Regions from separate parts of the Homo sapiens genome. Here region 1 is linked to region 2. The links come from fine-mapping of genetic effects on gene expression. A gene starts in region 2. The other region holds a variant in brackets. All regions are shown on one strand. Distances are from middle to middle.

Region 1 (8,998 bases), 130 kb before region 2:
GGATTTGCAGTGCCAAGGAGGGACTGCTCAGCACAGCCCAGACTCCCATTCCCTCTGCCAGTGCCCATTCTCCCCTGCACCATCTGTCCCCTGCATGGTCAGGGAAGGGGACCCTCTGGACTTTTCGCACAGAAGATCTAAACCACTCACCACTGGCCGATCCACGGAGATGGTATTTTCAACTTCCCTGTGAGGAATACAGACATGTGGGGTCTCAGTGTCACCAGAAGCAAGCAGGAGGCCCGTGGACGGTTTGCTCTGGTGCACGGCTTCCTGGCAGCCAAGCCAGAACCAGCCTCTAGAGAACCCCTGGAACACCCCAACCCCAGGAACCAGCCCCATGTCAGCACCATCCCCGACAGCCAAGCCCAGGCACGCAGGTTCTTGTTAGTATTGCTCAGAGCCCCCCAAAGGCATGACCCAGCCACCTACCCATGGACCTGGTGCATCTTCCAAGGACAGAGATCAGAGTGGCAGGGGCTATGAGCTCATCTGTGGTGGCCAGGGACAGGATGTGGCTTTCCTGGCCATGCTAACCTAAAATTTCAAGCATCCCCAACACCTCCTATCCCTCTTCCCTACTTTATTTTTGCTCCATATCACCTCTCCAAATCTAACATGCTACATATGTTTTTCCTATCCATTATTGTCTCATGTTAGAATATTAAGCTCCATGAAGGCAGGGATTTCTTTCTGTTTACTTCACTACTCTATCCTTAGTGCCTAGGACAGTGCCTGGAACATAGTAGGTGCTCAATAAATATCACAGAATGGATGAATGAATGAATGGGGGTAATGTGGCCAGTGGCTCAGGAGCAGCAGAAGGACCCTGGAGGAGACGTGTCTAGCTGCCTCATGCCTTCAACCTCTGGAGTGGGCCATGTGAGCTTTTAGAAACACGTGGGAAAGCTGGGCCAGCACTCACTCAGAGAGGTTCCTCTTTTCAGAGAAGACCCGGAGGATGAATTCCCCCTCCTGGTGGGGCTCGTAGGTGGAGGGCACGATGACGTACTCGCTGGGAGGCAGGCGGAAGCGCTGGGACACCTCCCGCATGTTGATGTAGGTTTTGCTCCTGGCCTTGGAGGCGTTGTACAGGAAGAAGTCCTTCTGCAGGTGCTGCTTGTTCCCGTGCATCTGAGAGATGGGGAGAGCCCAGGGCACATGAGCCCCTCGGGAGGAACATCCTGTCCTGCCACAGCCACCTCCAAGGGTCCCTTCCCAACTCCCTGGTCACCCATGTCACAGTTTCAACCTCCCTACTTCCGACTCCCAAGGCTTAAATAGCCTCCCTACCTCACTTCCTCTTCCTTTTCTGTTGTGATTCAGAGTGAATGGCAAATGTGTCATCCCCACACTCAGGGACACTTACCAGAACAGCTGCTCCTCAGCTCCGAAGCCCCTCAGGCTGGAAGGACCCCCAAGGAGGCCTAGAGGACTTGGCTGGGTTCTGAGGGAAGTGATTCCTCCATCCCAAGCGGGCAGCCACCCTCAGAACGCGTCTGTGTGACTGTGTGTGTGGCTGTAAGCGTGGAGGAGGGTGAGTGTGCAAAGGCATGTGTGTGACGTGCAGTGTCTGGTGCGAGGGAGAAAGTGCACATCCTGGGGGTGGTAGTCATGGGTCATGCAATGCCCTGAGGCACCTGCTCTGCAGTGGAAATAACACAGGCAAGGCCCTCTCCTATCACAGTCCTGCCCACAAACCCCACCAGGAAGCTTCTCGACGAGCCACAGACAGACTCGGGGCCCCCTGGGTAGTGCTGCACACAACTGCTGGCCGCTGCTGCTGCTATACCTCTTTGGGAACCTTGAGAAGAAACAGAAAGGAAGATGCTTCAGATGTGAATGAGGATGAGGAGCCTGCGGAAGGCAATGCCAGCAACTGCAGCCCGCATGCGGAAGCCTGACCCCCAGGCACCTGTTCTGCCAGGCCCGCTCCACTGCCTCTCTAATGCCCCCCCTGGTATTTTTTGCTTGTTACAAACACAAGTGGTCCTGATACCAGGAGCTCTGTGGGTCACTGGGTATTGAGGAAGCCAGAGGGCCCCTCTAGAAGCCCCTGGAAGCGTCCTCCCTGGGAAAGTATGTTTCCTGGGCTGGAGCCAATCAGGACTGCACACCTCGTAGATGGCGAAGCCAATGGTGAAGAGACTGGCCCCTAGCTTCCGGTCCTTCCGCCGGTTCTTCTGCATCAGGGCCACCAGGAAGCTGCAAATCACCTCCGAGTCATCAGGGTCATCGTCCTCCTCCAGGAGCTTCAGACGGTACTGAGGGTTGGTCCAGAAAGTATCTGCACCCCCAGAAAGGAAGCACGCATTCACAGCTGCCTCTCAGAGGGCAGGAAGGGGATGAGACAGAGGGAGCCATTTATTTCTATTCCCTACATCTAGGTGCTTAGGAAATATCAACAGAAAACACGATTCAGGCATTTCTCTAATGATTTGGGGGGGGGGGGGGCGCTACCTTTATTCAGATGGAGCTGTACTGATTGTATGTGTGGCTTTTCCTTCCTCTCTGGGCTTTCATTCTCAGTCTTTGCTGATGGTTTTGTTTTCCTTACCTGCCCCTTAAACGCTGTTGGTGACTAGAATCTGGTCCTGGGCCTCTTCTCCTCTCACCTCACCCTTCCTGCCTCCCTAGGCAATCTTTCTTACTTCTGCTTTTTAACTGCCCCCTACACGCGCATGATGCCTGAGCCATATATCCCAGCCTCAATCTCTCTCACTTTTTTTTTTTTGAGACGGAGTCTGGCTCTGTTGCCCAGGCTAGAGTGCAGTGGCGCGATCTCGGCTCACTGCAGCCTCCGCCTCCTGGGTTCAAGCGATTCTTCTGACTGAGCCTCCCAAGTAGCTGGGATTACAGGCACCCACCATCATCCCCGGTTAATTTTTGTATCTTTAGTAGAGATGGGTTTTCACCATGTTAGCCAAGCTGGTCTCGAACTCCTGACCACAAGTGATCCGCCTGCCTCAGCCTCCCAAAGTGCTGGGATTACAGGCATAAGCCACCACGTCTGGCCTCTTCTTTCCTTTATTCCTCAAATATTTTTTGAGTTCTTATCATATCACCAAGTGCCATCTAATATGCGCATCCGATGCTCTATTACAAATCTTCACTGGGACACTCTACAGGAACCTCAAACTTTCCATGTCCCAAGCTAAATTCCTTTCCCTAGAACCCCACAATTAACTCCACCAAAAACAAACAACACGCTGATATTTTTCTCTTGTGTGTCTTTTTTTTTTGAGGCAGGGTCTCACTCTGTCACCCAGGCAGGAGTGCAGTGGCATGATCACAGTTTATTGTAGCCTCAACCTCCCGAGCTCAAGCAATCCTCCCACCTCATTTTTTTTTTTATTTTTTGTAACGATGAGGTGTCACTATGTTGCCTGTGCTGGTCTTGAACTCCTGGGCTCAAGTGATCCTCCTGGCTCTGCCTCCCAAAGTGCTGGGATTATAGGCATGAGCCACCCACCCGATCTTCTTGTGTGTCTTATGTTGCAATGTTGTCAGGTCCCCAACTGGGAATCTTGACATCATTCTTCTTCCTTCCCTACATCACCCAATATGCTCTCCCTAAATCTGCTGTCTCCCCTCCATCTCTGCTGCTACTGACTTGGTCTAGGTTTTCATCATCTCTGACTTGAACTATTGCAGCAGCTGCTAACTTGGTTCTCCAATAGTGCCCTTACTGTTACTGACACAGTACTCACAGTCCCTGACTTAGGATGGTTCGGCTACAATTTTTTAACTTTACAATGTGAAAGAGATGCACATTCAGTAGAAACTGGATTTCGAGTACCCGTACAACCATTCTGTTTTTCACTTTTAGTACAGTATTAAGTAAGTTACATGAGATATTCAACACTTTCTTGTAAAATAGGCTTTGAGTTAGATGATTTTGCCCAACTTTAGGCTAAGGTCAGTGTTCCGAGCATGTTTAAGGTAGGCCAGGCTAAGCTATGATGTTTGGTGGGTTAGGCATATTGAATGCACTTTTCACTTAGGGTATTTTCAAAGATGGATGGGCTTATCTGGACATAACCTCATCGTAAGTCAAGCAGCATCTGCATTGTTCCCACAGTTTCCTGCTTCAAAGTTGCTACCAGCTCCCTATTGCAAACTTCTCAGCATGGTGGTTTCCTTCTCAGTAAAACAGGGAAGGTTTAATAAGATAGTGGACGTCTGGAACAGAGAGACTTAATAAGCACTAGTTAGGCTTCTTCTGCCTGGAACTTTTTCGGCTTAGACCCTCCCCCCATCAAGAGCATCTCCCACCTGGGAAGTTGCGGCAGCCTCCGGCAGAGCAACCCCGTACCCAGCGGCCCTCGTTCACAGACACTGTCCAGGTCTGAAGCTTGTCAGACTGCAGAGCATCGGCCGTGAGGTTGCAGATCTCCAACTTTGTGAAATGGTAGATGAAATCCTCATAGGACATCCTGAGAGGTTGGAAGAAGAGAGAGA[G/C]CCATATGGGAGCAGGTGAGGAGGGCTGGGAACGGAAGACCCCAGGACTAACACAGCACAATAATAAAATAGTTCACAGGAACTTGGTCAGGGTCCCAGAGGAGCCTGTCTTTCCTTTTTAGGGCAAACGCTGTCACTTCTGATGTATCTACTCCAAACCATCATCTTTTCTAACAATGATTCAAAAATGTGCCAGGGCCAGAAAGATAAATGTCGCATGCTCTCACTCATATGTGAGAGCTAAAACAAAGCATATGTCATGGAAGTAGAGAGCAGACAGTGGTTACCAGAGGCTGGGAAGGGAAGGAGAGGGGAGGATGAAAAGAGGGTGGCTAATGGATACAAAAATACAGTTAGATAGAAGAAATAAGCTCTAGTGCTCACCAGGGTGCTGTGGCTCATGCCTGTAATCCCAGCACTTTGGGAGGCTGAGGCAGGTGGATCACCTGAGGCTAGGAGTTTGAGACCAGCTTGGCCAACATGGTGAAACCCCATCTCTACTGAAAATACAAAAATTAGCTGAGCATTATGGCGGGCACTTGTAATCCTAGTTACTTGGGAGGCTGAGGCAGGAGAATCACTTGAACCCAGGAGGCGGAGGTTGCAGTGAGCCGATATTGCGCCATTGTATGCCAGCCTGGGCGACAAAGTGAGACTCTGTCTCAAAAAAAAAAAAAAAAAAAAAAGCTCTAATGCTCAATAGCACAGTAAGACAAACATAGCTAAACAAGAATTTATAGTATAGTGTGTGTGTGTATATATACACACACACATATATATACAGACGTGTGTGTGTGTATATGTGTGTGTATATATATGTGTGTATATATATGTGTGTGTGTGTGTGTGTGTGTGTGTGTGTGTGTGTGTGTGTGTATTTTTTGAGACAGAGTCTCGCTCTGTTGCCCAGGCTAGAGTGCAGTGGCATGATCTTGGCTCACTGCAACCTCCACCTCCTGAGGTCAAGGGATTCTCCTGCCTCAGCCAGCTGAGCAGCTGGGATTACAGGTGCACACCACCACACCTGGCTAATTTTTGTATTTTTGTAGAGATGGGGTTTCACCATGTTGACCAGGCTAGTCTTGAACTTCTGACCTCAAGTGATCTGCCCGCCTCAGCCTCCCAAGGTGCTGGGATTACAGGCATAAGCCACCACGCCCAGCCTATATATCTTTCAAAATAACTAGAGGAAAAGAATTGTAATGTTCCCAACACAAAGAAAAGATACATATTTGAGATGATGGTATCTCAATTACCCTAATTTGATCATTACACATTGTATATGTGTATCAAAATATCATATGTACCCCCAAAATATGGGTACATATGTACCCCCAAAATATGGGTACATATGTACCCCAAAAATATATATAGCTATGATATATCCATAAAAAATAGAAGGCCAGGTGTGGTGGCTTACATCTGTAATCCCAGCACTTTTTTTTTAAGACAGTGTCTTGCTCTGTTGCCCAGGATGGACTGCAGTGGTACAATCATAGTTCACTGCAGCCTCAACCTCCTGGGCTCAAGTGACCCCCTGCTTCAGCCTCCCAAGTAGCTGGGACTACAGGCACACGCCACCACATCTGGCTAATTTTAAAATTTTTTGTAGAGTTGGGGTCCCATATGTTGACCAGGCCCACATGCCAGCATTTTGGGAGGCCAAGGTGGGAGGACCGCTTGAGCCCAGGAGTTTGAGACCAGCCCGAGAAATATAGCGAGGCCCGTCTCTATTATAGTTTTTAAATAAAAAATAAAGTAATAAAAACACAAAAAACCTTTCCCTTGACATTATACTAAGACAACATTTTTTTTTTTTTTTCCAAGACAGAGTCTCTCTTGTCGCCCAGGCTGGAGTGCAGTGGCGCAATCTGGGCTCACTGTAACCTCTGCCTCCCAGGTTCAAGTGATTCTCCTGCCTCAGCCTCCCCAGCAGCTAGGACTACAGGCGCACGCTGCCACGCCCGGCTACTTTTTTTGTGTATTTTTAGTACAGACAGGGTTTCACCGTGTTAGCCAAGATGTTCTCGATCTCCTGACCTCGTGATCCGTTCACCTCGGCCTCCCAAAGTGCTGGGATTACAGGCGTGAGCCACCGCGCCCGGCTTAAGCAAACAATTTTAAGGGTGATGAGCATCATAAATTAATCCCAGTCCTCGGGGAACTTAGGGGGCTCTCCTTAAGCTGAGACTTGAAAATTCTCCTTAAGCTGAGACTTGAAGCCTGAATAGAAACAACCTGAGAGAGGGTGAGGTTGACGTTGGAAGATCAGGGTAAGTGGAGCTTCCTAGGCTCAGAAAAGAATTGTGCTAAGGCCAGGGTGCCTGTGGCTGGAATAGAGTGTGTGGCGGAGGGGCACACAGGAGGCAAGAGCCATGTCATGTTGGCCTGGTCCTGGGCTCAGTTGTCCCTGTGGCCTGGAAGGCTCCTCTCAGAACCTCATCCTTGCTGGGCCTTGGGCTGGAGGAGAACACAGCCCAGATCTCCCAAGGGCTGGAATCTGATAACCTTAGCTGGGGACTGAGGTCTGAGATTTCCCCTCTCTTCCCCACCCTTACCCTTCTGGGTCTTCCTGGGTTCTGGACTCACCAGAACTCTCCATCCTCAGTGACCTGGTGCTGCAGACGGGCCTTCTCATCTTTGTCCACAAAGCTCCAGTCCTTCCATCTGGTGGGAAAATGGAGGAATTAAGGAAGCAGGAAGAAGGGAAGGCCTGATGTAGGTTGGGACAGGAGGTATCAGAGAAATACAAAGAGTTGCAGCTGCTGTGAACTACCAAAATGCTGACTTCACCTGTTAACCTCAGTGTGAAACCCAATAGCAATGACTTCTCACATCCTCAAGACTGAGCCTAAACTCCTTAAATGGGCTGGTGAGGGCTTGATCCTTCTTTTCATCATACTTTAAAGGTTAAGAATTGAGTTCTGGGCTGCTCGCAATGGCTCACACCTGTAATCCCAGCACTTTGGGAGGCCGAGGTGGGCGGATCACAAGGTCAGGATTTCGAGACCAGCCTGGCCAATATGGTGAAACCCCGTCCTAATAAAAATACAAAAATTAGCTGGGCGTGGTGGCGGGCACCTATAGTCTCAGCTACTCAGGAGGCTAAGGCAGAAGAATCACTTGAACCCGGGAGGCGGAGGTTGCAGTGAGCCAAGATCGCGCCATTGCACTCCAGCCTGGGTGGCAGAGTGAGACTCCGTCTCAAAAAAAAAAAAAAAAAAATGGGTTCTGGACATAGACAAACTGGGAGTTCCGTTTAATAATAGGGCTAGCTATGCAACCTTGGGCAGGTCACTTAACCTCTGTCAGACTCTGCTTCCTCAATTGCAAAAGGAAAATGATTATGTCACCTGTTCACAGGGCTGGGATGGGCAGATGCAATAATGCATGCAAAGCTGTTAGCATAGTGTCTGTCATATAATAAGAAACTCTGATTTACTAAGGAAAAAGGCCAAGTCTGTAAACATCTCCTTTCCTGTGCTGGGAAATAATCAAGCATTGTGCTTCTAAAGGCTGGGCAGTTTTCACACTCTCTCTCCTCACTATGGTGGCAATAAAGTGCATGTGTGTTTCAGGCTCACAGAGGAGAATTCAACTAAACTGGGTGCTCCCTGGAAAGGTAAGGGGTGGAGGAAGCGCTTGGAGTCAGTCAGAGAACACTGCAGGGGACATGGAGATTCCTGAGACCAGGAGGAGGGATGCAGCAAAGGGAATCTCCTTGAGTGAACAGCGTTGGGTCCACTTGTCTCCAGCCCCTGTGATGGCAGCATCATGGTAAGCAGGGCAGGGCTGCACACCAAGCTCTGAGGCTGGAGAACACAGCAAGCGTCCCTGCAGGTGACTTGGGCCAGTGAAGTAGACAACTGAGGAGTCACTGAGGGCCTTCCCAGAGCACAGAGCACAGTTCCAATGTCACTCCCTCCAGGTAACCTTTCTCTACGCCTCCCCTCCCACCCAAACTAGGTGCAGAGGCCCCCTCTTTGTGATCCTTACTGTGGCACTCATCTCAATTATTAGTGTGTGCTTGCCTGTCCTTCCCCGGACCTTAAACCCACAGGCACAGGGCCCACGTGTCTGTGTTCATTTCTACATTTCTACATCCCCAGGTGGGTAGCCTAGGGCCTGGCAGAAGTCAGCACTGAGGAAGTAAGGATAGGTGTAGCGTGCATAGGTGAAGGAAGGCATGAGAATGTCTGCAGGAGGCAGTCAGGACATGAGGATCAGCCCCTAATCACAGTGTATCAAGGGAGGCTATGGGTTCACAGAATATCCCCAGTGCCTTGACCTGTGCCTCCTATGTAGTAGGTGCCCAAGAAACATTTGCTAAACGAATGACTGAACGAACCAGTAATTACATGCTGGGCTAAGAAGTACCCAGCAGTATATAAGTACAGGAGCCGAGGGGCCCAGGCTGCCTGGGTGCGGTCCTTCTCCTCTACTGAGTCCTGCCATCCCCCTCTCGAAATAAGAGGCGCTTATGGCTCATTCAGTAATGAATTGCCTCTCATTCAGTGGAGGTAATCAGGAACCAGTA
Region 2 (15,942 bases):
GGTCTCAAACTCCCAACCTCAGGTGATCCGCCTGCCTTGGCCTCCCGAAGTGCTGGGATTACAGGTGTGAGCCACCTCGCCCAGCCAGGCAATCTTATATAATGTTGATAGGAGTACAAATGGTATAATTCCTATGGAGGGAAATCTGGTAATAGTTAACACATTTCAAATGCATTTACTCTTTGACCCAGTAATCTCACTCCTAGAAAGGTATCCTATAAATACACCTGCATGTGTAGAAAATGACCTATGTATAGCTCTTCATTGTGGTAGTGCTATTTTAGCAAAAGATTAAAAACAACCCAAGGGTCTAGCAATAAGAGACAGACTGAATAAATTATATTAATAGTATATCTACCCCATGGAATATTATGCAGCTGTAAAAAGGAGAAACAATCTCCATGCACTCATATGAATTTCTCCTCAGAACAAACTATAAAGCAGGAAAAAAAACCTATTTGGTATAAAAAGGGGTGATTAAAAAAAGAGAAAAGCAATAATATAAAAATACATGTATTTACAAAAAAATACTGGAAGGATAAATAAGAAATGAAGAAATTCGGTTATTCGGGACAAGATGAGGAATGGGTAGAAGGGGACAGGAGTGGAAGCAACATTTTTCAATGTATAGCTCTTTATATTATTTTTGAACCATGTAAAAGTGTTATCTATTCAAAGCGTCAAAATTTAAAACTAGTTTAAAAATATTTTGGCTTTTAAAATAAAATAGCTGTTTATTGAAAAATTTAAATACTTCAGGAGTAAATGTATAAAGTTAAAAGTGAGTCTCCTGTCTGATGATTTCCTTAATTATTAAATTATCCTTTCCTTGGAAAGTCTATCAGTTCCAAAAATTTAATAAGCATCAATTTTGAAATACTGTCAGAGATGTTTTGATCTAGCTACTATATTTATTTTCCTTACCTGTAAAATGCGATCTTGTTACAGTCTCTGAAAATGTTTTTATCTACAGCTTCATCTTCAAGACTAAATAAAAAGACATTTTGAGAAATTTATTTCACACAGGGCTTGTGAATCCAACTTTTGTACCTTCTCTAACGACAGTATGAACATGCAAAATAAACCTTTGGAGTCTATTCTGCAATGCAAAATTGTGTCACGGCCACAGTATAACATAATAGCACATTATGTTGCAGAACAATAGCCTTTTGTAAACCCTCTGAGGTAAACAACAAAACATCAGGTTCTGGGATTACTCCAAAAGTAATGGGAAAAGATCACTGTCACTTATGAGGACATATTCTTTTGAAATAATGACTGAAGGCTATGACCACAAAAGTAAAATCTGAAGGAGGAAAACCAAAACAGCATCCCAAAACGAACAAACCAAAACCAACCAACCAGACAAACTAAGAACCATAACCCACCCACCGATTTATTCAAGAAAATATTTTCAGAATATTCTTCCTGAGAGCTGGGCTCTGAGGAAGATATGAACTGTGTTCAAGCTATCAGTTAGGGTTTTACCAGCAATCACAATACAAGCTGACAAATGCTTTAATAGAGGTGCAAGGTGCTAGAATAAGAACAGAACAGACGTAGAAGGGGAATTTCTTGCTTTTTAAGATGAGGTGACAAACTAGGGGCCATGTTTTTTAAAACCAAGTTTCCAGAAGAGCTGTTTCTGGGATAAAACATGAATGAGATATATGTATATTGAAGTTTGAGTATATGTATTTAAACTAGCCTCCATCTGATTAAAACAACTACAGATTATAAGGAGAAAAAAAAATTACACCGGCTTTCATGCACTAGTGTGGCCGAATGCATCTGTAGTCAGCATGTCCATGATTATGTAGAAAGCTATGACTGAACACAAACGTCGAAATATTATGAAAACAAGCCCAGGCAGATATACTTGGCCATACTAAAAAACTGTTTGTCCTTCACTGAACTCAGTCTTTGTCCGTTTATTTTAATTTATTAAAAAAATTTTTTTTGAGACAGGATCTCGCTCTGCCTCCTACGTTGGAGTGAAGTGGCACGATCTTGGCTTGCTGCAACTGCCGCCTCCTGGGCTCAGGCTATCTTCCTGCCTCAGCCTCCTGAGTAGCTGGGACTACAGGCCCACATCACCACGTCTGGCTAACTTTAAAATTTTTGTAGAGACAGGGATTCAGCATGTTGCCCAGGCTGGTCTGAACTCCTGGGTTCAAGCAATCTGCCCACCTATAGGCCTCCCAAAGTGCTGGGATTACAGGCATGAGCGAACCGGCCCAGTTTATTTTAATCAAGTGTACAAAGATTGGAGAATCTTTTGTTTCCTCTTTACAGCTTCGAAGAATTAACTCTGGGATGATATAGGAAGGGGTGATTATAGATGAATTTGGAAAGCAACATGCCTGAAATTCACGTGTTAAGAGTTCTGATTGCAACTTTTCCACTGTTAATGTTATTTAACCATCCTTTTTTTTTGGAGACAGGGTCTCACTTTGTTGCCCAAGCAGTGGCAAGATCACAGCTCCACTGCAGCCTCCAAATCCATCCTCCCAGTGGTCTCCCAAGTAGCTGGGACTCCGAGGGGGCGGGGAGGGGGTCTCGAACTCCTGAACTCAAGCGATCCTCCCACCTTAGCCTCCCAAAGTGCTGTGGGATTACCTGCGTGAGCCACTGCACCCGGCCTATTTAACCATCCTGAAAGTATTTTATGAGAGGCTATTAATATCAACTAACTTCCCGCGAATTGAGAGAAAAGATAAAGGTCAGCAAATACCAAATACGCAAATAAGAAATGCAATTAAAACACTATTCCCTGTTTCTAGGGACCCTGGGGTCACTCGCTACAGAAGCACTTGGCCTTTACCTTATTTCCTCTTTCACTGCTGCTTCCATGGCTTCTCTGTCACTCCGACCAGCTCCCAGCTCTCAGGACAAGGGCCCTGGGCGATCTTTTAAAAAAGCCGATTGGGTGTCTTTCTAAAATTACAACCAGTACTTCATCGTCAAGTTTCTGGGAAGGGAGTCCCCTCCAGATTCTCATGGAGTGACAAATCTTGACTCTTGCTCCTGGAATTTTTCAGGCCCAAACTAGCGTTTCTACAATGATTTATTTGGCAAATTTGTCTTGATTATGGGTGGCTGATGAGGAACGTGCTTTTGTTAGGAACCGAAACTGGGCGGCGGTGAGGGCGTGTACGCAATGAGTCCTAGAGGGTAAAAATCAAGAGCGTTAAGAACCTGGAAATGCCGAGACGGCCTCCCTGACTGGGACGAAGCATCTGCAGATCTATCTCAGTGGCGGGGTCACGCCACAGATTTTGAAAACTGACCCTCTCTGTCTCCGTTTTCGGTTAAGGGTGGGAAGTGCCGGCCGGGTCTTTGCTGGAGGCTAGGTCTCCAGCCAGATTGTACTGCAGCATCGTACTCTTCAGGGCTAGAAGGGGCCTTTGAAGGTTGTTACACTACCCAGTCTAGGAATCGCGTGTACTCCACCACCGCCGAATTCCAGCCTTTGCTTAAATACCACCCAAACCGGAGAACTCACTACTAGACGCCACTTGGGCAGCCAGGCTTAGGGCTTTTCCAGACTTTCTGGCCCCAAAGTCTGACATTGACTTAGAAGGGATGAAGGGCTGGGGCGAGCGGAAGTAGAGAGCCAAATCCTGCACGGGGTGCCTGCCTGGTCCTAAAACCTTTAACGGCTGGGAGACAGAAAAGACTCAGGCCAGGCTGGCATGTAGCGATCTCTCTAACCCAGCTGACCAGGTTCCAACAGGATGACGCCTGCGCAGTAGGTCCAAAGTCTCACGGCGCACAGACGACTGTCTGAGAGAGGGGCCGCTACGCCGCACAGCAAACAAGCTCCGCGACGTTTCCAGGACCCGGATAATCCCGCCCTTAGAGCAGAGCCGGAAGAAGGCGGGACGAACCGGAAGAGGGTGAAATGCTTTCGGTAGGCACTCCACGGCTGTGAAGATGGCGGCGGCTGCGTGGCTTCAGGTGTTGCCTGTCATTCTTCTGCTTCTGGGAGCTCACCCGTCACCACTGTCGTTTTTCAGTGCGGGACCGGCAACCGTAGCTGCTGCCGACCGGTCCAAATGGCACATTCCGATACCGTCGGTGAGTATTCACTTCACTAACGTCTGAACCTAGAGGAGCAAGGGGTGGGGCTACGGCGGCCCAAGGGGTCCATGAAGGTTCCGCAAAAGTCTCTTCAAAAGGGGTGGGGTTGCTGGGATGGTCTGTGTGGCTAGCCAACTGGGACCCACCTCCCTGGAGTGGAAAGCCGCGCACTTCTGTGATTAGGCTAGCGGGAATGTAAGGGCCACTTCAGCAACAGAAAGGAGTGGTGGAGCGGCTTCTCATCAGAAAAACAGAACTTTCAGTGCCTGACTTGAGATGTAAACTTGATGTACAAACGGAGAGTTGTTTATCTTTCAGATGTTTCACAGAATCCAGTGTCCCCGGGTTGGATAAGAAAGATATGTAAATAGGAGTCTTCATTTCTTTCTTTCTTTTTCTTCCTCTGCACTTCTTGGTCCCTGGGTAATTCTGCTTACGAGATGGTTCGACTTCGCTTCAACTTTGGAATGGCTATTCTAAGCTTTACTGTGTGACTAGAAAGCATAGAGATTTAAGAAATGTGTTTTAACATGGGAATGGTTAAAATTGAAGAAATAGTACTTAAAATTTAATGTGGTAAGGCTAGTCTTTCATTTGGATAATTAACTACATGGGTTGACCCTTTCTGCCCCTTACCCATTTTAAACCTTATTTCAGTAACAGGTATAGTCCTGTGAGCAGACAAAAACCAGATGCAGGGAGGAAATGCTGAAAAGCATTAGCCCCATTAAACCTACGTTGGCCTTTTTGTTTCATTCTGCTCTGCTCACTGACTGTAATGTCCAAATCTTATTTGGGCTTTTATTATGGTAAACGTTATACCTTTTGTTCAGTGGTGAAGATTTTCAGGTGTTCAGTTAGGTTTTTACTTGTTACTAAAATGGTTAATAGTTAAGTCTTTTTAGATTTGAAAATAAAACTCTGGTTATTTGCACACAGAATAGTTCATTAGAAAAAATGATTGGTTATTCTGAGCAGTGATTGGTGAGTAAAGGGAATGAACTGATTAAGGGGTACGTCCCATAAAGATTTAAGTTAAGTTGGAATTTCTAGCAGTCTTAGATAGTTATATGATGCTTTGGTAATTGAAGCCATCTGAGGCTAATTATCTTTCCTTTATGTTTGCAGGGGAAAAATTATTTTAGTTTTGGAAAGATCCTCTTCAGAAATACCACTATCTTCCTGAAGTGTGAGTTTTTGAATTTCATGAAGTTTTAATTTGAATTTTAAAAATTTATAGGTAATGTTTTAAATTACCTATTTTATAAGTTCTGAAATCTAATAGTCTGGCATTATCTAGGTATAAATATTTTTAGTATTACTAAGGTCCTTTTACTGAATCATCTTCAAAGTACTCGTGTGAACTTTATTTTCTTCTCTTGTTTTTCTGGTGTTTACATTGCATATATACACTATGTAGACATTATATATTAGTATATATAATGTATATATTAATATATATGCTGTATATACTACATTGAATATTCAGTCACATCTCAGTCGAATTACATTTACAGTTGATACTTTCTGAGAAAAGCATCCTTAGGTGATTTTGTCATTATGCAAACATCATAGAGTATACTTAAAACTGGATGGCACTACACGCCTAGTTTGTATGGTACAGCCTATTGCTCCTAGGCTATAAACCTGTATAACATGTTACTGTACTGAATGCTATAGGTGGTTGTAACACAATGGTAAGTTTTTGTATATCTAAACATAGGAAAGTAGAGTACAAATACGATATTACAATTTTATGGGACCCCCGTTGTATATGTAGTCTTTCATTTACTGAAATGTTATGTAGTGAATGACTGTGATTATGTTGGGGTTGATTCCCTGCATGGTGGTTTTAATCTGTTCTGTGTAGATTAAAGAGGTTTTACTCTTGTGTGCTTGTTAAATGTTTACTGCAAACATGACCTAGGTTTGTCAGGCCGTTGGCTGTGAAGGAATATATTTAGTAGATCCTTTATTTACAAAAGGAGTATTTTACTGCTTTGGAAGAGGAAGCTCAGATATTATCAAGAAATAGGGATTATGTAGAACAAAACTAGTTTGTCTAGTGGAAAAATGACTGTATCTGAATCTAAAGTATCCCATTGTGTGTTCAGTAAAAGCTTCCTTTTAGTTCTGAAACCGGCTTTAATTTAGAGAACGATTGATCGTGGGCAGCTTTATTTCTAGATGAGGGATAAAAATCCTGATGATAGATGTGTGATTCTATGCATACTGTCTTCACGGAAGTGCAAAATTTTAAGTCATAGTTGGATAATTTTATTCTTTTCAATTGTTTAGTGAGTAATTATTACTTATTGCATAGACTGTGGGGAAGTAATAGAAAAATGTTCTTCCCTCATCGAGCTTACATTCTAGTGGGAGTGAAAACAGCAGGTAGAATTTCTCTGAAGAATATATACTGTATCCATGAATATGTAATCAGTCTCCTGACCAGTGACTTATATTTGATTTAGATCAAATCTACTCTGACACTGGCCTTGTGAGATTGGTTTACTGGGTAACCTAGTAACCCTTGTCTTTTGGAATAGCTTGACAGCCTGTTTGCTGTTTTATTCTTTTATTAGGTCCAGTCTTTTTTTCTCGTGTAGTTTGATCTAGTGGTGTTTTGCCAAGTTAAACCAACTGCATTTTTTTTAAGATGGTGTCTCACTCTGTCACCCAGACTGGAGTGCAGTGGTACGATCTTGGCTTACTGCAACCTCCACCTCCCAGGTTCAAGCGATTCTCCTGCCTCAGCCTCCCGAGTAGCTGGGATTACAGGCATGAGTCTCTATGCCCAGCCCTAACTGCGTATTTTGAAGTGTTTATATTTCATTGTTTTTGGAGGATTTGAGGCACTTTATTTTTTGTTGTTGTTTTTTGAGACGGAGTTTTGCTGTGACGCCCAGGCTGGAATGCAGTGGCACGATCTCGGCTCACTGTAACCTCTGCTTCCTGGGTTCAAGCGATTCTTCTGCCTCAGCCTCCCGAGTAGCTGGGACTATAGGCGCGTGCCACCACGCCGGCTAATTTTTGTATTTTTAGCAGAGGTGGGGGTTTCACCATATTGGCCAGGCTGGTCTCGAACTCCCGACCTCAAGTTATCTGCCTGCCTTGGCCTCCCACAGTTCTGGGATTACAGGTGTGAGCCACCGTGCCCGGCCTGAGACACTTTAACATTATCTTTTTCTTTGTTATTTCTGTGCTTTCTCATATTTACCAGTTGTCTTTGATTTTGTACTTTTTGGGGGATGGTATATAGCTTTCCATGGAATAGCTGGGACCATTTTTTTTTTTTTTTTTTTTTTTGAGACGGAGTCTCGCTCTGTCGCCCAGGCCGGACTGCGGATTGCAGTGGCGCAATCTCGGCTCACTGCAAGCTCCGCTTCCCAGGTTCACGCCATTCTCCTGCCTCAGCCTCCCGAGTAGCTGGGACTACAGGCGCCCGCCACCGCGCCCGGCTAATTTTTTGTATTTTTAGTAGAGACGGGGTTTCACCTTGTTAGCCAGGATGGTCTCGATCTCCTGACCTCATGATCCACCCGCCTCGGCCTCCCAAAGTGCTGGGATTACAGGCGTGAGCCACCGCGCCCGACCTTATTGTCTCTTAAAGCCTTTCATTTAAAGTTCTAAATATTGTCTTGTAACATAAACAGCAGTATTTTTGCTGCCAAATTTCCTTACAAGTCTCCTGTTTGGGGGATGTGTTCTTACTGGCTTTTTATTAGTTAATCCTGTCCCTGTATGGATTATTTTGAATAGTTCATAGCCCAATTGCTTTTTATCATTTCCATAAATTCTATCCAACAGGTCAAATTTTTGAACATTCTAATAGAGTCCTTTGAAAATGTGTTGGTCATCTAAAAATTAGTTTGAGAAAACAGTTTAAAAGAAAAAAAAAGGAAGCTTATAATTAGGTTGCTTCTTTTGTTATGAATGAAAAGTAGATTCCTAAATGCAGTCATGTTTATTTTTGTCATGTTTATTATTACATTTATATAAAGTAGGGAGTCTTTAGTATATTTTTCCTTTCATAGCTAGAATCAAAGATAAAAGCGAATACTGACTTCCTCCAGCTAATCAGTCATATAGTCAGATTTACCCTCCCAAGTCTTCAGAATAATGTCTTGATCCATTAGAATACTGTGTTCCAAACTGTGTTTAATGAGCTTTATGAAGCTTCCATGATAACATGAGCTTCCTTGAGGCCTCTTTTAAGGTAGGCTTTGAAAAAAAAAATCTGATACTCTTATCTTTGCTTTTGCTATTTCTACCTTCCACAGCCATGTTTGCTTTTCGTTCATTGCTCTTTCTGTTCTATCTTGATATCTTTCAAGGTCTGAGATAGCAATTTTGCTCTCAGTGGAACTATTATGTATATCATCATTTAACACCATTTAACAGTTGTTAATATTGCCTTGTGACATGCATTCCTAATTTTATTATTGCTTGTCTCTTCAACTAGCCTTTTGAAGGGTCTTAATAATTTGTTTCCACTCGTTTCCCTCTTTAGCCTAACAGTGTGCCATTATACCTTTGTAATACTTGTGCTATTTATTTATTTATTTATTTATTTATGTTTTTTGAGACAGGGTCTCGCTCTGTCGCCCAGGCTGGAGTGCAGTGGTACCATCATGGCTCACTGCAGACTTGACCTCCTGGGCTCAAGTGATCCTCCTGCCTCCCTTGCCTGAGTAGCTGGGACTACAAGCATGTACCACCACGCCTAGCTTTTTAATCATTTTTTGTAGAGATGAGTTCTCACTATGTTGCCTAGGGTGGTCTTGAGCTCCTGGGCTCAAGCGATCCCCCTGCCTTGGCCTCCCAAACTTCTGGGGTTATAGGTGTGAGCTACCGCACCTAGCCTGCTCAATAAATACTTAAATAATAGAAGACTGGCTTGAATTTAGAGTGCTTTATCACTCCCAGGTTTTTCTCAATAGAGATCCAGAAGTTAGGACTTTATGGCATAAAAATAGATCCACAGTTTCCAGAGGTTAAAAACTGCTTACCTGCTATTTTTCTATGAACAACAATACTTTTATCTTAATATCCAGCTCTTTTTGCATGTATTATTTCAATACCTTATGTTTGGAGAAAGGATGGTCTTTGAGTATCTCAGTTTAGGGTACGAAATGAATAGGATATAGGTTAACAGCTTAGGAAAAATGCTTTGTTGGGGAATTATCTTTTGTTAACAAAGATTTCTTCTTTTGTAGTTGATGGAGAACCTTGTGACCTGTCTTTGAATATAACCTGGTATCTGAAAAGCGCTGATTGTTACAATGAAATCTATAACTTCAAGGTAAGGAACATAAAATTACAGAGTTTTTTTGGACCTTAGTGATTATCTGGTTCCAGTCTCTTAATTTCATAGAGGAAAGAGTATCATGTAGCTATGGAGGAGGAGAGCTGAAACTAGAATGCATGCTTCCCAATTTGCAGACCACCAATTCTCAAACTTTTTGGTTTCAGAACTCTTATATTTGTAAAAATTATTGTGGACTCCAGAAAGCCTTTGAGCATGTGGGTTATGCTATTAGAAATTACAACTGAGAAAATATAAAAATATTTATTAGTTTATTTTAAAGTAGCAATAATAAACTTATTGCATGTTAATATAAATAACTGTTTTTCCCAGAAAACCACACAGAAGAGTAGGATTGTTTTGTATTTTTGTAAATTTGTTTACTATCTGGCATAACAGAAGATCACTGTATTCTTATATTCCCTCCTTCACTCAGTCTGTTGCAATAATTTGGCTTAAGTACATGTAGAAAATAATGACCTCATACAGATATATAGTTGGGAAAAGGAATGGTATTTTAATGGCCTTTTCAGATAACTGAGGATATTCTTTTTTGATTCTATACCAAAACTCAACAAGTGGAAGTTTTTAAAGGTTAGTTGCAATGTGGAATCTGAAATATTAATGAACTTTTTTTGTACTCTGATAAGAAATCCACTGATATGAATGTATCTTTTACCTGTGTGTGATCTTGTAGCATCATTTATTGGTCATTTAGAAAATAGCAGTTGACTGAATTATATACATTTTTATAAATATTAACTCATTTCACACTTAGCTAAAAATTACATTGTTTATAACTATACCCTGCCCTCTTCATCTCATCAGTAGGTTCTTAAGTTTTGGAAGCCGTTAAATTCAGTGTAGCAGATACAAGTTCTTCAAAATTCCAGTTTTTGCTTGAAATCTCAAATTTTATTTTGGCAGTGAATACTGTCAGTTGTCTTCCTTGAGGGGACAGCCTCTGTTGCCCATTTCCAGAGAAATAACTCTCAAATAACCAAGTCTGAGTAATGGTAGTTTTTCAGTCATTCTTTCAAGTAAATATGGTGTTTCGTGGAAAAAATGATTAGTTTAACTCACAAGTCAAAGCAATTGCAGAGTGCTTTATCTCAAGACAATAATTTATTGTATTTTGCATGCTTTCCATTTTGTCACCTAGATTATTTAAAAAGTCAGGTACTCAAAAGGTCCAGATTTAATAACATTAATAATTTTTACTGCTTTATCTAGGATATTCTTACATAAAAGTGGCATTTTTAAAAACTGCCAGTTTGTGACTATGAAGAATATGACTGCTAGTAGAATTAAATGCCACTGCCTTAGTTCCTGATAAGGGGCAACAGTTTTACCCACTATTGCTTTTGTAATATCGTTACAAGTCAAATAGCATACTATTATTATTATGAAAATAGTTTTTTTTTTTTTGAGATGGAGTCTCACTCTGTCACCCAGGCTGGAGTGCAGTGGCGCGATCTCAGCTCACCACAACCTCTGCCTCCTGGGTTCAAGTGATTGTCCAGCCTCAGCCTCCCAAGTAGCTGGGATTACAGGTGTCTGCCACCACACCCGGCTAATTTTTGTATTTTTAGTAAAGATGGGGTTTTGCCATGTTGGCCAGGCTGGTCTCAAACTCCTGACCTCAGGTGATCCACCTGCCTCAGTCTCCCAAAGTGCTGGGATTACAGGCGTGAGCCATTGTGCCCAGCCATGAAAATAGTTTTGTCTATGGTTCAACGGCCACACTTTTGAGAATTGCCATAATCTAGAATACTTGAGCGTTGAAAATATATTGCTCAAAGAATAAAGCTGGAAGCATCACATTACCTGACTTCAAACTGTACTACAGGGCTACAGTAACCAAAACAGACACAAAGACCAATGAAACAGAGAAGACAGCCCAGAAATAAGGCCGCACACCTACAACCATCTGATATTTAACAAAGCTGACAAAAAACAAGCAATGGGGAAAGGACTCCCTATTTAGTAGATAGTGTTGCGGTAGCGTGCTGGCCATATGCAGATTGAAACTGGACCCCTTCCTCACACCATATTCAAAAATCAACTCAAGATAGATTAAAGACTTAAATGTAAAACCCAAAACTATAAAAACCCTGGAAGACAACCTAGGCAATACCATTCTGGACATGGGAAGTGGCAAAGATTTCATGATGAAGATGCCAAAAGCAATTGCGCCAAAAGCAATTGCAACAAAAGCAAAAATTGACAAATGGGATCTAATTAAGTTTAAGAGCTTCTGCACAGCAAAAGAAACTATCAATAGAGTAGACAGCCTACAGAATGGGAGAAAATATTTGCAAACTATGCATCCAACAAAGGTCTAATATCCAGCCTCTATAAGGAACTTAAACAAATTTATATGCAAAAAACAACCCCATAGAAAAGTGGGTAAAGGACATGAACAGACACTTTTCAAAAGAAGATATACAGCCAACAAGCATATGAAAAAAAAAAAGCTCAGTATCGTTGATTATTAGAGAAATGCAAATCAAAACCACAATGAGATACCATCTCACATCAGAATGGCTATTATGAGAAAGTCAAAGGATAATAGATGCTGGCAAGGTTGTGGAGAAAAGGGAATGCTTATACATTGTTAGTGGGAGTGTAAATTAGTTCAACCACTGTGGAAAGCACTGTGGCAATTCCTCAAAGAGCTAAAAACAGAATTACCATTTGACCCAGCAATCCCATTACTGGGTATATATCCAAAGTAATATAAATCATTCTACCGTAAAGACATATGCACATATATGTTCACTGCAGCACTGTTTACAATAGCAAAGACATGGAATCAACCTAAATGCCCATCAATGGTAAACTGGATAAATGTGGTACATATGCGGCCATAAAAAAGAATGTGATACATATGCAACCATAAAAAAGAATGAGATCATTTCCTTTGCAAGAACACAGAAGGAGCTGGAGGCCATTAACCTTAGCAAACTAACACAGGAACAGAAAGCGAAATACCACGTTTTCACTTATAAGTGGGAGCTGAATGATGAGAACACATGATCACAAAGAGGGGAACGGCAGACACTGGGCCTACTTGAGGGTGGAGGGTGGGAGGAGGGAGAGGATCAGAAAAAATAACTCTTGAGTACTAGGCAGTACCTGGGTGATGAAATAATCTGTAAAACAGTTCCCTGTGAGTTCAGTTTACCTATATAACAAAGTTGCGTATGTATACCGGAACCTAAAATAAAAGTTAAAAAAAAAATATATATATATATATACACACACATATATATAGTTCTGAGTTGAATTTTTCAGACCTTTTCCATTCTGTTTCTATCTCTCAATTTGCATTTTTAAGAAGATTATCCTAGTTCTGTGCTTGCAACAATTTTCTGCTCTATCTTAGCTTATGAGCATGAATATTTTTTTGTTGATGTTGTTAATTTGGTCAAGTAAATCTTTTAAGTATATTTTAATGTGACAAAACCCTCTACACTCTGGCAGTTTCCCAGTCTACTCAGAATTGTTAGTAGAACTATGCCTTGTGAGCCAAAGACTAGAGTCTAATAGTCCTTGAGTCTGATAGTGTTTGATTCTTAGATATTTTTATATAGAGCCTTTATCTGATGCTGTTCATTTTTAAAATAGCAAACTCAAAATTGTATCTGTACTGCAGGTGAACTGTTTGTTGTGCTGTGCTCTTAGTATCTTATTTTTTGGAAGGTGAGTTAACTACTCTGTATTATCTCTTTTTCCAGGCAGAAGAAGTAGAGTTGTATTTGGAAAAACTTAAGGAAAAAAGAGGCTTGTCTGGGAAATATCAAACATCATCAAAATTGTTCCAGAACTGCAGTGAACTCTTTAAAACACAGGTAATCTTTGAAAGTGATTGGAGATAAATAGAATAGGCAAAAATTGGAATGTATATATTTTTGGCTGTATCCACTTCCGACTTCTCAAGTATTTCTTTTGGCAGAAGTAAGTGGAAGCATGTTCTGATAGGTACATAGTCAGCCACTTATACATACTCATCAAAGAGAGGTTGTACTTTGCTTTGTGTGTAAAAAGCAAACCCCCATTTTTTTATTGTGGTAAAATATACACTACATAAAATTTACCATTTTAACCATTTCTAAGTGTATAATACAGTGGCATTAAATATATTCACATTGCTGTGCAGCCATCGACCCATCTCCAGTACTTTTTTTTTCCCCAAGGCAGATTCTTGCTCTGTCCGCCAGGCTGGAGTGCAGTGGCACAATCTCGGCTCACTGCAGTCTCCATCACCCGGATCTAAGCAATTCTTTCACCTCAGCCTCCCAAGTGGCTAGGGCTACAGATTCACACCATTACGCCTGGCTAATTTTTTTTGTATTTTCTGTAGAGACAGGATTTCACCATGTTAGCCAGGCTGGTCTTGAACTCTTGACCTGAAGTGATCCACCCACCTTGGCCTCCCAAAATGCTGGGATTACAGGTGTGAGCCACCGGGCTGAGCCCCATCTCTAGTACTTTTATCATCCCAAACTGAAACATCATACCTATTAAACAAAAATTCCCCACCTTCCAACCCCAAGACCATGGTAACCACTCTTCTACTTTCCATGAATTTGACTATTCTAGATACCTCATATAAATAGAATCATACAACTTTTGTTCTTTTTTGTCTGACTTCTTCCACTTAGCATAATGTTTTTAAGGTTCATCCATGTTATAGCGTTATCAGAATTTCATTCCTTTTTAAGGCTAAGTGATGTTCTATTGTATGTATGTACCACATTTTGTTTTTCCATTCATCTGTTGATGGACATTTAAAACGTCACATTTTTAATTCTTTGGTCTCCTCATCTAATTAATATGTTCCCAGAAAAATCAGGGTTTTTAAAATTTACTTCTATAGATCTGAAATCAGAAGGGTATCATCATTGTCTTAGAGTTCAATTTCACACCTTAATTTTGTAGAAAGAGGGAGATGTGAATAATCATACATTTTTCGTGCTTACACATATGCAATCATGTAAGTGGAGATTCTGATATCAAATTTTGTTGTCTTAGAAATAGTAATCTCAGTTTTTTGATAGAAAAATTTTATATGTGTTGAAAATAGTTATAGTAATTATCATCTATACTTGTCCTTACTATATTTAAAAATTATTTTGGAATATTTAGCAACTTGCCTTGAACTGTCAAATTACTAGAAGTAAAGTTTATTATTAAGAAGACAAATTTAGTCATTGGTAATTGAGGCCAGATGCGGTGGCTCAGGCCTGTAATCCCAGCACTTTGGGAGGCCGAGGTGGGCGGATCACCTGAGGTCAGGAGTTCAAGACCAGCCTGGCCAACATGGTGAAACCCTGTCTCTACAAAAAAATTAGCCGGGCATGGTGGCGGGTACCTGTAATCCCAGCTACTCGGGAGGCTGAAGTGGGAGAATCACTTGAACCCAGGAGGCTGAGATAGTGTCAGTGCACTCCAGCCTGGGCGACAAGAGTGAAACTTGGTCTCAAAAAAAAAAAAAAAAAAGGGATAATTGATGAGCAGATGAATTAATTGGTAATTGAAGGAAGAGTTCCGCTTTTATTATAACTTAGATTTTATGGTCTTGGAGGGAAAAGAAAATAGCTTTAAGATGGTGAAAGAATGGTAGAGAAAGCTAGAAGCAATGTGATGTTGTGTAGTTTGTATGTTTTCTGTTGGTTTTCCAAATTTATCCCTTAGACTAGGAGGATTGGTTGGTCTTTTCTTGGATTTGATTATGGAAAGCTACCTGATGCATCTGGTTGCTGGAGGCTGACTACTTTTAGATGTGCTGTAATCTTTCCAGGGTCTTGGCTTATTGGTAAGGTTTCCTCTCCTCCTCCAGTCTAATGTAACAGGGTTGAATTACACAGTCTCATTACTCAGGAAGGACAATGCCTCATCTACTGATAACTGGTAAGAAAGATAATTAGTGTAGTTTTTTACAGGCATAAAAAATGTAGTATGGTGGAAGGGACAGCAGACCTAAGCATCAAGAATATTAGGTTTAGGCCGGGCGCGGTGGCTCACGCCTGTAGTCCCAGCACTTCGGGAGGCCGATGTGGGCGGATCATGAGGTCAGGAGATTGAGACCATCCTGGCTAACACGGTGAAACCCTGTCTCTACTAAAAATACAAAAAAATTAGCCAGGCATGGTGGCGGGCACCTGTAGTCCCAGCTATTCGGGAGGCTGAGGCAGGAGAATGGCATGAACCTGGGAGGCGGAGCTTGCAGTGAGCCGAGATAACACCACTGCACTCCAGTCTGTGCAACAGAGCAAGACTCCGTCTCAAAAAAAAAAAAAAGAATATTAGGTTTAAATCCTATTTCTTTGTCTAAAGCTTTGTAGTTTTGAGCCACATTTTACTCATCTGTAGAATGAGGGGAAATGATCTAAGCTTCTTCTATCCTAAGCATACATCCTATATCTAAAGCTTTGTCATTCTTAAATGTTTATTATTCTGATAGAAAAATTGAATGGCCATTTTGGTTTGATACTATTTTCTAGTTCCCAGCAGGGTTTTATTCACTTGTTTGTGGTTAATTGGAA

Evidence for each region.
Region 1: its variant is fine-mapped to the expression of GANC in whole blood (TOPMed, PIP 0.96).

The regions. Positions count from the first base shown.
Region 1 is chr15:42,394,930-42,403,927 of GRCh38, reverse strand. CAPN3 (calpain 3) reads right to left here. Exons shown (of 24, transcript NM_000070.3): 9 at 7,051-7,128; 10 at 4,276-4,436; 11 at 2,118-2,287; 12 at 1,793-1,804; 13 at 926-1,134; 14 at 151-187. Among named protein-coding and RNA genes, the nearest start is that of CAPN3, 40 kb to the right of the region's middle. RefSeq lists enhancers at 2,245-2,294, 2,665-2,744. The variant G/C (reference allele first, on the strand shown) is at 4,462.
Region 2 is chr15:42,261,393-42,277,334 of GRCh38, reverse strand. It overlaps GANC (glucosidase alpha, neutral C), which reads right to left and starts at 4,134. Exons shown (of 24, transcript NM_198141.3): 1 at 2,825-4,134; 2 at 925-987. The coding sequence starts at 2,853. TMEM87A (transmembrane protein 87A) reads left to right here and starts at 3,902. Exons shown (of 20, transcript NM_015497.5): 1 at 3,902-4,080; 2 at 5,212-5,272; 3 at 9,303-9,388; 4 at 13,132-13,245. The coding sequence starts at 3,937. RefSeq lists enhancers at 2,741-3,940, 3,913-4,142, 4,303-4,552.